Linked DNA regions of Homo sapiens: region 1 is linked to region 2. A link means that fine-mapping ties the variant in region 2 to the expression of a gene that starts in the linked region. Tissue or cell type: whole blood. Region 2 holds a variant in brackets; the other region holds the start of a gene. All regions are shown on one strand. Distances are between the middles of the regions.

Region 1 (8,000 bases), 130 kb before region 2:
CTCAGCCTCCCGATGTGTTGGGATTATAGGCGTGAGCCACTGCACCCGGCCAATATTTTTAAGTTCCAGCATGTTGAATTGGATAAGGCAGCCAGTCAGGCAAGGGCATAAATTCTGTTTTTTGTTATTGTTGTTGTTGTTTTCAGAAGGGATACCTATCTCTAATCTTTTTTTTTTTTTAAGAGACAGAATTTCAACACGTTGCCCAGGCTGGTCTCAAACTCCTGGTCTCAAGGAATTTCCCGCCTCTGTCTTCTGAGTTTCTGGGGCTACAGATGTGTACCACGGAACCCAGCTGATTTCCCACCTTTGATATATTATGAGCAAACGATTAGGGAGAATTAATTATTCTCTTCCTCTTTACCCTAGGAAATGATGTTTACCCTAACCCAAAATGTAAGAATTTATCAGGAAAACACTACCTATAAAGAAGAAATCTGTCCTGCTTGGTGGTGTAAGGAGAACAATTGGATTTGGTCCATGTCAGAAGATTGCGGACCAAATCCCACTACTGCCAGCAGGGTCATTTGGAGAAAGATACTTTGTAACATTGGACCTCTGTTTCCTCATCTGTAAAATGGGAATAGTAAGAATAATAATACTTGTCTCACAGATTGATGTGAAGGTAAAATGAGGTCATGTGTGCACAGAATCTAGTCCAGACCCTAGAACATACCTGGCACTCAATTAATATGAGATAATTGTGCCATGCCTTAAGTATAAGATTTGTTATTACCGTAAACACTACAGCATGAATTTGCCTTGGTACTGCCAAATGGAGGTTTAAGTTCTGATTCCTGATGATGAAATACGGAGACTCTGGCCTGCTACGTTAAAAACAGCACTGATGGTAAAGGCTAACCCAAGACATGCTTTCTCTTTCTCAGGGTCCAGTCCGAGGAGGCTGGTGTTTATACGACAGAATTTGCTTGCATAAAGCGGGTTAAGCCAGGTTCCCAGTGCAGCGGCTGACACCTGTGGCTTAGTGTTGCTCCGAGCCACCTGCAGAGCCAGTCTTGGAACCCAGCAGGTCCTCTGGGGGCAATATGTCTCTGTAGGTGCTCACGGCAGGCTCCAGGAGCTGGAGGTAACTGGTTGGCCAGAAAATCTACCCAAACCAGTACTGACTAACCGAGGCTGGCACAGATCCTTCTGCATAATAAGATATCCACAGGCCCCCGGGGTGGCTTCTGAGGTCCCTAGGGTCTCTATGAGAAAGATAGCAGAGGCGGGGCTGGAGATGAGGTGCTCTTAACCCAGGTTTTGCCCACAGTTGGTACAGTAGTGGGGGAGGGTTCAGTCTCCTCTTTTTTTGCCCCTTGCTTTTCCTCCCTTCTTTCTTCCTAACTGGGAGGAGACAGGATTGCACAAAGCGAGGCCCTAGTTTTGCTGAAGAGGGGTAAAAAGCCTGGGGGGAAAGATTGAAGCCCTGGTGACTTGAGGTCCCCTCCCTCTTCCTAAAAGCAGAGTGAATGATTCTGTGCAGGCAATAATAATAATACTTATTATAATGATGCTGCGGGGGTCTCCCAGATCATGCAAGAGGGCAGGCAGGCTGAGCAGCTGGTCTCGGTTATGAAGATACAGAGGTGTTTCATGCTGGCTGGCACAAACCTCTGCCCTGAGCCCCCACCCTAGGACCCCCAAGACTGCCCCAAGATCCAGCAAGCACAGGGTTAACATGAGTCATGGCAAGGGGCCTCCAGGACCTCTGCATCATCTCCAGGGGCTGGAGGCAGGGCAGGACAGGTAGGTAGGACCTTGGCCAGCCCCTTCCTCTTTGGTAAACTGAGGATAACACTATGGAAAGTGTTCATACATGCTCATGGTTCTGTTGCTCTTTCTATTTCAGTGCTCCTGCCCTCAATATTTTTTTCCCTTAACCTTTTCTAGACCCATAGGTTTCTTCCAAATTCTGGGGCCGAACTGCCTCAACCATCCACCTCTGTTCTTAAGCCCATCAGCACCCACCACAAGGCGGACGCTGACATCCAAGAGGCAGCTCAGTTTAAATTAAGAAGTTGAGTTATCATCTCTAACTAGAGCAAAAGCAACGGAGCAGAGAGGGCTCCCTGCAATGCAACTTCAGCACAGAGATTGTGAAAACCACCCGCAGGCGAAGGGAGGGCAGGGCAGCCAACTTGACCGTTTCTAACCCACTCACCCACCACCCTCCCCCTGTGCCAGGACTGCAGAACCTCTTTATTTTTGTTGACTTCGAACTAGGACAACCTCACTACTTAACCAACAAAGCCCCCCAAGTCTGAGACTCAGACATTAAAAACTTCTATTTTCAATTATTTGTCTTCTTTCTGTATATTGATCAAATTACCACAAACCACTAATCTGTTAGAAATTAATCCAAGATTGAGCAATTCTACAGCCAGTTAAGTCAGAGTGGAGAATTAATGATTAATTAGCATCATAATGCTCAACAACCCCCCCACTTCCTCTAATGCGTATGCACGTACAGACACATTCTTTAAGAAATGTATTACCAGAACTGGTAGGAACTCTTCTCAGCACGTTACCCACTTGAAAACACTAGAGAGAAACCATAGCCAGTCTGTGTAGCTGCCCTGAAGCTATGACTCTATGCCGGGTTTTAAAAGTCCATATCTCTGTGTTTTTAACGTGCAGCTCCCTGGATCATAGATACCTTGATGAAGACAGAGAAGAAATTTTACACCTGTGTGAGGGTTGGGTGATTACTGGAGCACAAAGAGAGACATAATCCAACCACACAATGATCCCTAGGAGACAAGAGGCCTACAAAACAGGTAAAATGTCCCTGGAACAGGAAATGTTCTTGTCACCAGGCCAATTGGTTACCACAAATAAATTCTTTTTCCAAATAACACAAACAAGCAGGGTTTTCCTGCTTCATCCAAGAGGAGGGAGCAGCAGCAGGAGACCAGCTGTCTTGTGTATAGTCCCAATGTTTGCTTCTAATAGCAAGACAAATCCTTGATGGAAAATGTACAAAGTAATTGAGCTGGCAAGGAATCAGAAGGAAATACCCAGGCCCCTTTCTTCCTGGTGACACATGTATGCCATCTTCAGAAGCTCAGAAACAAGCAGGAAAAGTGAGCAAAGGTGAAGATATATGTATTACTTCGGGTTTCTCATCCATCTAGGGGATTTTCCTTAATTGTCGGGTTTGATTTTAAATGAATGCCTGTACAACCGGAAATCAACTCCAGTACAAAAAATAAAGTCATGTGGAATTTTTGAAAATTGCCATACGGTAGGATCCATATCTGAGTTGTTATAATGAAAAAAGAATTCCTGCTTCTTAAATTTAAAAATTATAAAGTATACATTTTAGCTTTGTTAACATTGCTCAGCCTAACATTAAAACGGCAGGGGAAGTAGGTCATAGAGAAAGCGGCCCCGCCCCAGATGGCACATGATAACGACCAGAGGAGAAGCAGGGGCCATGCTCCCCTGTCACCTGGGGTGACTTTCTGGGGAAGACTTACTTGGGTGTGCCTGTGGGTTTCCAGTACCTGCAGAAGAGGTACTGTCCGTCTGCATTGACCAGGTGAGGGAGGTCCTGGTAGGGAATGCTCTGCGGGGTCCGCCTGGGGGAACTTTCCTCTGGCATGCTGGAAGGGTCTTCAGGTCCTAGAAGGAAAAGTGACATATTCCAAAGTCAGAAATATCTCAAGAACATGTATGGATAGGAGAGAAAAGTCTAGTTCAGAGTCAGTAACATTTTTTTAAAAGCAGTTTAAAAAACCCCTCTGTTTCAAAGGTTTAAAACATACATACATTTCTTGCAAACCTCTCCAAGACTGAAAAATCCCATTTGTTCTTAAGAAAATGCTCACTTTATTTTTTAAGTGCCTCATTACAGTTTTTCCCCCTTCCCATCTGTGTTTATTTTAAATCATTTCAGGAAACTTCATCTTAAAGACTATTTTAGCTGTAATCAAGTGGAAATTATAGTCAGCTCTATGGGTACAAAGACCCAGCTGCAAGAAGACCCATCTATCTTAAAATCTCCAAGGAACAGTTTCAAGTGGGCACAATAATGAGGTGGATGATACTCAGATTATTCCTCCCATCTGAAATTCCAAGGATACATGACAAACCTGTTTCCATTATGTGCTGGCGTTTGCATTCCACAACCACGACAGCCTGGAGAATCAGAACCAGGCAAATCGGGCTGTTCCCTCATCTGGGCGGCCCCAAGGCAGCAGGAAGGCAGCTCCGAGCCCTCTTCCCGCACCCAGACCCTGCCTTTCGGGCTGGGGCGCTCAGCCGGGAGCCTGCTTCCAGCTCCCACCGGCAGGCTCTCCGGGGCTCCCCTCCCTCCCCAGGGCGGGGAGCGGCGCTGCGATTCTCCACTACTAGTTCATGTCATCACTTTTCCTAAACAAATCGCTAGAGGGGCTCGGAGAAGGGAGGGGCCCGGGAAACTGGGAAACTAGCTCCGCGCACACCGAGGCACCTCGCAGACGCACAAATGCGGGTGCCCAAGGCAAAGTCGCCCCCAAGGCTTCTCACAAACTTTGCTTCCTGTGCGTCTCCGACAGCACAGGACACGTAGCCCCGAAGCTGTCATCGGAAATGCCGCTGGGAAAACCGGGTGGGCTTCGCCGGGTGTCTGCACCGGGGAAGGTGGGGACTAGAAAGATGGAGTTGATGGGGACAAGTTGGTTTGGGGGCTGGTGCGAAGGAGCAGGGAGGGCGCGCGCGCGCGCACACGCGCGCACACTCGGACACGCGCGCACACACACCGTGCACACACACACACGCACACATGGGTAGCGGGAGCCCACGCCGGGCGTGTCCGGGACCCCAGTGCTGCTCCCCACCCCTGACGGCGGCACTGGCGGGCTGGGGCAGGGGCCGGGAGGCAGTTACCGGGGCCACGAGCGCCGCTGTCGCGTTCCCCGAGCGCAGCGGATCCTCGTTTGCGGCGGGCCAGGGCCGGGACGAGCTGCGCGCGACCGGCTTCGCGGCGACAGGGTGCGGCGTCTGCGCCGCCACTTTATCCCTGGGCCGGCTCGGCGGCGGGGGCGGCCCGAGGTGGGTGGGGACGCGCGGGACCCGGCGGGCGGCGGGCGGCGCGGGGAGGCGGCGCCCGGGGCCCACGTGTGCCCGGCCCGCGGGGAGGAGCGGGGGCGCCGCCCGCCGACCCAGCCACGCACTCCTCTCCTCCGCGCCTCGTGGACAGCCGCGCCCCGGGGTGGCCGCCCGAGGACTGTCAGGGAGGCCTGAACTGAGCTGGGTTCATGGGAGCCTCAGCGCGGGAGGACACACCACACCCACGGGCACACGCGCGCACACAGACCCACAGGCACCACACGTACACAGACAACTCGCGCAGGGCCGCACACTCACCACACGTGTACACATGTGCACTCCCAAAGTCACTACACTGCACGCAGGGACATACAGACACACATCCCAGAGATACCACATGCATACAGACACACACAGACCACACATGCATGCACACACACAAGCCGAGACATAGGCACAGACAACCCACAGAGACACAGAGGTGCACAGACATATGCAGACTATACACCTGGCCCCCACATAGACACAGACACACTCACATCATACACACACAGTCGCACACAGACACACTCACACTTCATTGCAGTCAGACACATACAATGCTGGAGGGGCAATTAACCGGTCGTGGTGGCATGCGCCTGTAGTCCCAGCTACTCAGGAGAATCGCTTGAACCCGGGAGGCAGAGGTTGCAGTGAGCCGATACCACACCATTGCACTTCAGCCTGGGTGACAGAGTGAGACTCCATCTCGGGGAAAAAAAAATGCTGGAGGGGGTCCACTTGACTCTAGGGTAGTGTAAAAGCAGATGGTGCATGGCTACAAATGCCTTGTCCCTTCCTGGCAATCCCCAGCAACTCTCCCGTTCCCAGCGGCTGTGACCCCCAGATAAAACCTCTGGTGCATCTACACAGGCCAGGGCACAGTCTGAGCTCTGTCCAGTATAACTAGCAACGTGGCCGTGGAGGGTAAGGCCACTGGACTGAGACTCCACACCACCTGGGTTGAACATTAGCTCCTCCGCTTGCTCTTTGAGCCTCAGTCTACCTACCTTCAACCTGTGAGTGATATACCTATGCCCCAGTGGAGTGTCCCTGTCTCACACTGACCTCAAGAGGCCTTCCTGTCTTTCTCCGCAAAAAATTCTACACCATAGCAGCGTTGAGGACTGTGTCTCAGCGTCACACTGTGTGTGTCCAAGGAGGCCCAAGTTGCTACAGAGCCTGTGGTCTAACTTGAGAAATAAAACAACAGCCTTTGAGCAGTGGCTTGAGTTGTAGGCACTGCTGAGCGTGACTTACCCACTGTCTGGCCTCCAGCAGGCCACGAGGCCTGGAGCAGAGGAGTGGCTAAGTGACTTCTGGTCGGGGCAGCTCTACAGAATCCATGCAAGAGAGGTTTAGGGGCGGCAGTCTCAGGGGCAGGAAGCTTGGGGGCTTCACTCAAAGCTGGACATGCTAAGTGCACCGGATTTCCGTTGGTTATAATTCATGGAAAGGAAGGGTGCTCGGGGGTCTGATGGACGCTTTTATCAAGGCATTATTTCAAATGTTCCTGGCTCTAACATTTTATGATTTAAAATACACAGCTTGAAAATTTGGAGGAGAGGCCGGGCTCAGTGGCTCACGCCTGTAATCCCAGTCCTTTGGGAGGCCAGGCAGGTGGATCATCTGAGGTCAGGAGCTGGAGACCAGCCTGACCAACATGGTGAAACCCCATCTCTACTAAAAATACAAAAATTAGCTGGGCATGGTAGCGGGCACCTGTAATCCCAGCTACTCGGGAGGCTGAGGCAGGAGAATCGCTTGAACCCGGGAGACAGAGGTTGCAGTGATTGCACTCCAGCCTGAGCGACAGAGCAAGGCTCTGTCTCAAAAAAAAAAAAAAAAAAAAAAAGCTTTGAGGAGAGACTTCACTGAAGTTGTCAGAGGGATCTCAGTAGAAGTGACATTTGCAAACTTGAAGAGATCCCCCAAACTTGGTTATGGACAGAACTGAGACTGTGGTGTGTGGCCAGCCAACTGGGAATTTGGGAGTTAAGAGACAGATCGTATTGTTCTGTATCTGGCTTTTTCTTTTAATTAAACTTATTCTGAGATAATTGTAGATTCGCATGCAGTTGTAACAAATAATAAAGAGAGATGCTATGTGCCCTTTACTCAGTTTCCTGCAATGGCAACTTCTCACAAACCACAGTAAATATCACAACAGGATACTGACACTGATAGAATATCTGTAGTCAAGCTACAGAACGTCTCTACCCCACAAAGTGGTATGCTTTTATAGCCACATCCACTTCCCTCTCATCCTCACTCCCCTAGAACCCCTGGCAACTGCTAATTTGTTCTCCATTTCTAAAATTTTGTCATTTCAAGGATATTTTATGAATAGAATCATAAAGTACATAACCTCTAGGATTCACCTTTTCATTCAGCATAATTCCAGGTGGGTTGGGTGTAGCAGTCCACAGTATGGAAGTACCACAGTGTGTCTAACAGGTCATCTGCTGAAGGATATCTGCGTTGTTTCCAGTGTTTGTTGATTAAGAATAAAGCTGCTGTAAACCTCCGTGTACATGTTTTTGTGTGAACCTAAGTCTTCATTCTCTGAGATGAGGGCCCAGGAGTGCAATTGCTGAGCTGTAGGGAAATTGCAAGTTTTTAAAGAGAATGCCAAAATGTTTTCCAGAGTGACTGTAGCATTTTACATTCCTACCAGCAGTGTAGGAGAGAACCAGTCTCTCAGCATTCATGTCAGCATGTAGTGTTGTCACCATTTTAAAAATTTTAGTCTTTCTGTTAAGTGTGTAGTGATGATATTTCACTGTGGTTTTTAATTTGCTTTTGCCTAATGGCTAATGTTGTTTCATGTGCGTATTTGCCATCTATATATCCCATTCAGTAAAATGTCTTTTCTTGTCTTTCGGCTATTTTCTTGCCCCCCACCCCCCTTTTTTTTTTTTTTTTTT
Region 2 (8,265 bases):
ATGAATCTTAGTCTATTTTTTGATTAAATGTCAATTACTGCTAAGAGATAAGACCACACTCAGTATATGAAACCACGAAAGCTGAATTTATTGATTACTTAGTGTAGGAATGGTTATTTGGTCAGAGATATTCTCATTGAACAAAGCAAACTGATGATTTTATATAGGATTGTGGGCAGGAGTTGAGTTTGGTTTAATGTTGGTTACAAAGATGAGAGTGGATTGCTGTTCCTCAGAAGTGTGGATTATGTTTGTTCATTGCTGAGGCAGGAAGGGGTCAGGTCAGCCTTAGAAGAGGACTCAGTGGAGTGAGTCAGCCTCTGATTGGCTGCCTTCCACAGTGTGAGGCTGTCTCTGACTGGTTGATTCCAGAGTCATGGTCACTGAAGCAAGTTGTCATTGATTGATTAATCAGGATGAAAACCACTTCTGATGTTGACTTGTCATGGCTCGGGAACAATTAGTCTTTTCTCAGGAGCATGGGACTTTTCTGTATCCCACCCCTCCCTTTCTCATCTTCAAGCAGCAAGACAGACCATCAGGGATTGTCCCAATATTCATCACCATTGTTAATTTTGTCTTTAAATTATTCGTTGAAACATTTCTTAGGACAGTGGCTCTGTAGATTTAAGACTCTGGATAAACACATCAGACTGTGCAACAAAGTATAACAAAGGTATTGCAAGAAGGGATTAGAGGGCAGTATAAAGGCATGATCTAGATTTTCCAAGGTCTGACATACTCTTAAGTAGATAAGCTACCTTGACTGTTTGAGTTCTCAGTAGTATAAACACTGTCTTCCTGGCTTTGTTGGAAAATGAAAGATTCTATATAGTTACATTTTCCCAAGAATTCATGCCAGTACCTTTAAGTGGCTAAATCTGATTACATTTTTAACAAGGAAAAAAGTATCCCAAGTTATCACACTCTTCTTTGCCTTGTGAAAGAGTTCTTTGAAGGAAAATAATATTTTTTTGAAGAAGTACTAAATTCTAGGTGATTTCATATATTGTCTCAATTCTCACAATATCCTACAAAAGTAAATTCTTTATTTTTATTACACAAATATTGTGACTAAATCCAGGGTTCAAACACGGATCTGTCCAATTTTAAAGTTAAAATAACTTTTTAAAATATCTCAGTCATTAAGAGCATCAAAAATTGTGCTTCTCTATATGTGAGTGATGTCCATTGGCCATTGAGTAATGTACTACTGTATTTGCTCCCTAAACTAGAAGGCCACAAATTACAGGGTTTCATGGGTTTTTTTCCTCTCCTTCCCACTGCTGTTGGTTACCATTTCTTTTCTTGTTGCTCTCTCCCTGTTATGTTACCAGATTGTACATACAAGATTATGCATCAATCATACATATAAATAGATTTTACATACAAGACTATATATGCAGGCAATTGTACATATGTTTAGATTACACATACAGTTAGGCCATTAGACCTTGTGTCATTAACAATGTCTCCAGTTTTTTCAGAATAAAATTCAAGGTCTTTTATCACAGCACCAATACTCAGACACTTGTTTTACATTGCTCAGGGTTTTCACTTGTGCTCTGGGCACTAGCAATCGTCTGACTTCCTGTTAAATGAGGAGTTACTGTAACAGGCAGCATCTAACCACCACAGGGAAAGATTTAGGCAAGCAGGATAATCGGAATCATTTGGTTAATGGCCCTTGCCTTTACCTTATTACATTTTTTATAAATTTTCTGAGTAAATCTCATGTGTACAAAGGTTTCCCAGGTGTATTCTTTAACAGAAATAAGCCACAGAAAGGAAAGGTCCTTCTGCAGACCAATCTTATCTCTGCAACTTAATAGCACCATGTGATTTTGAGCAAGTTGCTGAATTTTGCTAAATCTGTTTTCTTTATTCATAAAATAAGGATGATAATAATACATTATTAACTCATGCAGTTGTTGCAAAGCTTAAGAGAGTATTATGCCAAATGCTGAACACTGTGCTTGGCATATGAGAAGTGCTCAATAGATGAGAGTTATAACAATCATTATTGCTTATAGTAAGTGGCAAAGAGTCCACTGTGCTTTAGTGTCCTAATAATGTTCAGCCCGTCATCTTATTGTTAATGCCCTGCCAGGCCCAAATGAGGAGGCATACTGAGATGAGGTCATTCTGTCCTCATGCGTTGGGAGTCAAAGGACTGAGTCTTTCTACTTTCTTCATTTCCTCCTATTGTAAACATGCGCTAATGACATACTTACTGCACATTCACACAGCCTGCTTTTCTGTATGGAGCCAGGTACACATTTTCATGTAAGGAACTCTTTGAAAATATTGTCCAGAATGTACTCTTCTAATAGGAATTAAAGATGAAAACATTGTATTACCGGACATTGTGGCTAGCACTGACCCTGGAGGTTTGCTTTGAGTTGTAAAGATTTTAGAATATGGACTTCAGTTAAAACCTATGCTGAATTTTTCTCGTGTAAATGTTTGTCTTTAAAAAGTGTGTTGTCACAGATACCATGAATAATTTGAATTTAGATGAAAACAGCTTCTGGAATTATGGCAAACTAGCCAAGGGGCATATTAGTCATATACTGGATAGTTTTTCCTGGAAATCTATAAATTGCCTTCTTAACATAAAAATAAAGGAATAGATATGGCCAGATTGCTCAAGTGACTCCATTGCTCATGTGGTTACATGTGCATTTTGTCAGCTTTGCCACACTGTAATTGGCTCTTCTGTTGGATAACTTCCTAGAAAGCCTAAAATAATTTAGTCTATATAAGTCTTATGAGTCAATGATACCCTAAGTGGAAACACAGGTATTTAAAACCAGCCAGCTTTCCTTTTGACTTTTTTTTCCTGAGGCCCTTCTCAGGAACGTAACTATTTTTGTTAGGAAGTGCAGAAAGGAGTGGTCTGTTGTTTAATGACAGAACCACTGACATGCAGGAGGAGACCAAAGGGAAGGTGCCTTAGTTCTAAGGAAAAATCTTTTGTCATTTGTACAGTGAAAGCTCATTATAAGAGCTAGTTAAGCTTCTTTAATCTAAAATACATCCTAATTGCCTAAAAAGGTAGTCCAGAAATTTTAGGTTAATATATCTTATTGCTGTAGAAAATATTAATGCCTTGTTTTCAAGGTTTTAAATCCATTTTATGAATAATAAAGTAGAAAATGAATCAAATACAGACTCCTATTAGTAAAATTTGGGGGAAGGTAGAACATTCTGGGTTCAACCTCACTGAAATCTCATTATGAGTCCTTGGTGAATGCTTCTGTTATAAAATACTGATTTAAATATGGTACCAGGGGCTGTCTCTTAGAAAAGAAGTTTGCATGTAAGATAAACTGGAAAGCATTTTAGATCTCATACTATTAGTTATGCTCTTGAATAAATTATGCTTCCTTCTGAAATGAAAATGTGTATTCATGAATATGCTTTGGATTTCCATCAAGTGTTCTTAAAATGTCAAATTGCGTTCAAAAGTTGCTTCAGCTTGATGGGTCAGGCAAAATCAAATATAGAAAGTGAGGCCAGAATCTATTTATGGAGGCAGTAGACCTTTCACACGTGGCCCCAGCCTGCCCCTGCAGCCTCAGCTCCTCCTGCCACTCCTCCACCCCACAAAGCCTAGCGCCAGCCACAGGGACTGGGGGTCACTTCCTGAACATGCTTTCCTCCTGTGCCTTTGTTTACCCTGTTCCCTTTGCGTGTAGGGCCTAACTCAACATCCTCAAAATCTGGCAAAAATCCCATCTCCTTGTAGTGGTTTATGTAATCCTTTGGTCAGAACGAAGAGCATGCTGCTTTGCCAGTCGCTGCCCTTGTCACACTATACTCAGACTGTCTAAGGCACAAGACGTTGTTTTACTCATCTCTGTGTGTCCTCTGAAAGCCAGCCCAGGGCCTGGCTTTACGTTATAGATGCTCAGTAAGTATTTGTTTACTGAATTGCATTTTCACATCTCTGTAACCTGTCCTATTCTTCTATCATGTAAAATGCCACAGAAATTATCAGAGTTTTACAGGTCTTATGGAGAATGTTTTGAAATAGGGACTTTTCATTTCCCTGTCTAGGGAGACAGTTAATGTTGAGTTTTCCCACATAGCTAATGTCCCAAACTATCAATGTTTTCTCCAGGAAACCATTTTGTGCCTCATTGGTTTACTGAAAACATAACAGCACTGTCCAAGTCTGACTCTCAGCTTGAATGCCATTAAAGAGTAATGAAGGGAAAAGTTACATAAAAGGTTCAAATTATTACAGTAACTGCATTTCAAAGATAATTTTAATGGTGAGTTAGTTTGTGAAATGAGAAGACCAAGCTTTATTGTGGTAAGATTTTACCCTTTTCTTTTGATAAAATTCTAAGCAATTTTTGAAAAGTGTAAGTCTCAAATTACCTAGGTTGCCTACTAAAACGGCAGATTCCTGGCCCTCACTATTGGCAGATTCAGAGTCAGTGAGTCTAAAATGAAACCTAGGAATCTGAATTGTAGGAAATATAGAGGCAATTCTGGCGTGAAAAAAATCACAGGATTGCACTTCGAAAAACACAGATGTTCTGAGGAAAGTGGAAAGGTAATATCATATTAATGGACATATTATATGCTCAAAATATTTGCTAAGCATATGTTACATAAGCCAGGCCCTGGGCTGGCTTTTAGAAGAGATACAGATGAATAAG[G/A]CAATATCTCTTCCTCTAAACAGCATCATTGTGTACTTGAATATTCTAGGAAGTTGGATAAAGTTACTTGCTCAAAGTGTCCTGGCACTGATAAGCCAGAATAGGCTGTCAGTTATGTTCTGCTCTAATTGCAAGAGTGTTCTGGGCTTAGATATACATTTCATACATTCATGATGAACAAGGAAAGAAATGCTTTACCATGGCCAAAGAAGTCAGACAAGATATTCCTCATGCCTCCTTGTTCTGAAAAAAGACTTGGATTTAGAGATTCAGTAGCTCTGAGCTGGAGTGAATGGCTCATTATGTTTTTGCTATAAGTATCTATAAAATATATTTCCAGTTAATCATATGAGGGGTTTTAAACCTTTATTATCTGGCACCCTCAACAAATAACTCAGAAATAAGTACTCTAAAAGACCAAAGTTTACCTGTGGCTCCCAAATTGCAACTTAGCTATAGTAATTTTTATCATTGATATCCCACAAGTTCACAGGGAGTTAGCATTCTATATATTATTGTGACAGTGAGTTAAAAATTACACTTTATTCCATCAGTGTGTAATTATAATCCTGTATTATATATGTTTTCATATTTGTCCTTTATTTCCCAGCAGACTCTGAGTGTCTTATGGACAAAAAAAAAAAAAAATCCTCAAACTTGTTATTCTATGACACCCAGTACAAACATGAGTGGGTATCCAAAATATACTTTTAGATTGCTTAAATTAACTACAAGTTTAAAATGTGTTTGATTCTGAAATTAGAATGTTTAGAAGCTTCTACAGTGTGAAAGCCCCACAGGACAGTACTCATGTTACTGCGCGTGGATGAGAAATATCCTAGGAGAATGCTGTCTCAGGCTCTGATCTACTAGTGTGTGTCTGCAGGAAAGCTTAATGTTACAGAGGCAAAGAGTTGTACAACTATACAATCTGTGCTTTGCTTTTATGAAAAAGAGGTAAATTGTTAAAGAAAAAGAAAACATGCCAATAACAAGGATTTAAGAAAGCAAATCTTAGGCATGTCTTTGTGCAGCTTAATGTGTAGAACTGTCTATATCCATGGCATATTATAAACAGCAGATCATTTTGTTACTCCTGAATCCTTAAGAAAATGTTCCACTATATTTGGTATCTTCAGTTCACTAAGGCAGAGAAGAACGTAATACATATTTTAAAACAGTATAAAGAGTTGAAATGGAAAATTTTTGTGCTTTAAAGAGGAAAATATCGATTACCAAAAAACTGTCATTTGGAGTAATATGTACTATCTTTCTTCCTTTATCCTAACTCATACATGTGATCAATATTTTTATCACTCCCTTCCTCTGCCATTTCTTGGGTAAATATGGAAATGAGCACAAACTATCATTTTCTGTAAATCATTTCACTTAGACACAAGATAAATATGCCAAAGACTTATTATAATATTTTTTCTTTAATATTTATTTCACAAATACTGTCAAGCATCCTTTAGAAGATATTGTGCTTAGCACCTCAGGGAAGATAAAGATGTAGACCTTGCCTTCAAGGACTTATAAAATTTTGTGTCTCTTTCATTTCTAAGCTGTGGAATAGGTTTGACTAATAGCTCTTTGCAGGACCACTTCATAGAAGTACTAGTATTAGGCAGGCCAATCTGGGGGAAAAGATGAGCCCAACAACAGACAGCAGTCATTTTTCTCAGGATCTGAGATTAGATTCCTATATTCTTAAGAAGATGACTTTTATAATCAGCCAACTTTTAGCTCTTTGGATTTAGGACTTGCCATATTCTGAAAAGCCAGTTATCACTTTCTGTTTTGACCGCTCCCCCAACCGCCACCAAAAAAAAAAGTATAAGAAAAAAAGATACCTAGGACATGAGTAAGGAGCTGACCCACCCATGCATTCTGTTCAGTGTTTGTGTCTTCACTGTCCGTACCCAGTGTAGAAAGTGTTGGGGATACAGATGTGATTAGACATCTGCCCTCAAGGGACTTACAGTCTCATCTAACAAGGCAACATATAGGGAGATAAATTAGAGCAATGTATTTTCATAGGAACCTTGATTTCTGTTCAGGACAGTGGAAGCCTAAAAAGAGGGAATGGCCAATTCTGTGTAGAGACATGAAAGGCTTTGTGAGAGGTTGAAGGTGGAGCTGAGCCTTGAAAGAGGAGTAGGGGTTTGCCAAGTTGAGGAGGAGAAGAGGCCATTCTAGGCGGAGAGATCAGCCCAAGCCTAGGCCTAGAGACAAACAGCCTCCCTTATTTGGAGAATGGTTGAGTGTTCTGGTGCCTCAGGGGCAGGGGCGGTGCAGGAGGGAGAAGGGCAGACCAGGCATGTGAGGAGTTAGGAGCAGCTGGGTCACCAAGACTTGGTGTCTGTAGGGGAGGGGATGGGTATGGGAGGCACTGAGGAGGTACAGTCAGCAGAGTCGGTGACTGCTGAGAGGAGGGCTGTGGTGACATTCATCTGCAGCTGGCACCTCTAGCCTGCTGTGGCATCTATGGGCCATCCCCTAAGCTCACTCCCACCCACCACGTCCAGGCTCTCCACTCTGTGCTCTCCCCTTACTGGCCCAGGCTTTAGACCTGCTGGGACCCCTGCAGGACAGACTGGTGGTAAGATGGAGAAGAGACAAGGAAAAGATGGGCCCAGGGTTTGAAAGGCCCAGACTCGACTGAAAATCCACTAAGACCCAGTGCTGGGTTGACACAAAAGCCCGGGTATCACTCAGGATCAGATGGGACAGCATTGTGTAATTGCAGCTTATTTGGCACTCAGGGCCCAGCTCCAGAACGTTCTATTAAACCAGCTATATGTCCACTCGGAAGTTATCAGATAATTCCAACACTTGATTTTTCCCTCCAAAATGAAGCAAAATCAAGCTGTAACAAATGGAACTTGGTCTTCCCCTTGAAGCTCTTTTATTTGATTTTCATAGTCATCTGTGTGGGGTAGCAAACAAAAAGCAGACAGATGATTGTGTTTTCCTGGCCTGGCAAGAAAAAGCTGGTCAAGGGCTATGAAGGCCAGCAGATAGAGAGAATGGAGAATGGCCACAGTACATGGGGGCCCAGCAGCCCTGTTCTGTGAGCCCAGGCACCCTATTGATGAGCACTGCACAGTATCAACCAGAATCCGGTAGAAGGCAGGTAAGCAGCTGTCAGCCTTGTACTGAAGGGCTTCATTCTGAAAATACCCAAGAGCCTCCTGTGTTAGACTTTAGAAAGTGGCAAGAAGCTAGGTTCATGTTTTCTAGGGTTTTAGGCACCAAAGCTAGAATTCTGATACGAGGTTGGAAAAAAATCAGAGAGCTGACAACTTGTGTGAGAATGAAACAAATCATCACAAGCATTATATTAGCAGTGAATAGATCATGTCTGACATGTGAGTCAGAAAGTAGCCCATCCACTCAGATATATGGGCCAGTTTAACTCCTAGAAGCCTATGCATTGCAAAATCCTTTTCTATTGTTAGGTCCACCAACAGCTCCTACCTCTCTCAAACATTTATGACCAAATGAGTTACTCTAAGTCATGTCAGGGAGCTTTTCCCTCTGCCTGAAGCCTGAGAGGAAGGCTCTGCCCATTCCTCAGCCCTTTGGCCTT

Evidence for each region. PIP is the estimated chance that this variant, and not a neighbour inherited with it, causes the effect.
Region 1: it holds the start of MGLL, and the variant in region 2 is fine-mapped to the expression of MGLL in whole blood (INTERVAL, PIP above 0.99).

The regions. Positions count from the first base shown.
Region 1 is chr3:127,818,212-127,826,211 of GRCh38, forward strand. It overlaps MGLL (monoglyceride lipase), which reads right to left and starts at 4,304. Exons shown (of 8, transcript NM_007283.7): 1 at 4,098-4,304; 2 at 3,483-3,627. The coding sequence starts at 4,107. RefSeq lists an enhancer at 1-335 and a silencer at 4,746-5,265.
Region 2 is chr3:127,951,156-127,959,420 of GRCh38, forward strand. The region is part of intron 4 of KBTBD12 (kelch repeat and BTB domain containing 12); the gene reads left to right. Among named protein-coding and RNA genes, the nearest start is that of KBTBD12, 40 kb to the left of the region's middle. The variant G/A (reference allele first, on the strand shown) is at 4,674.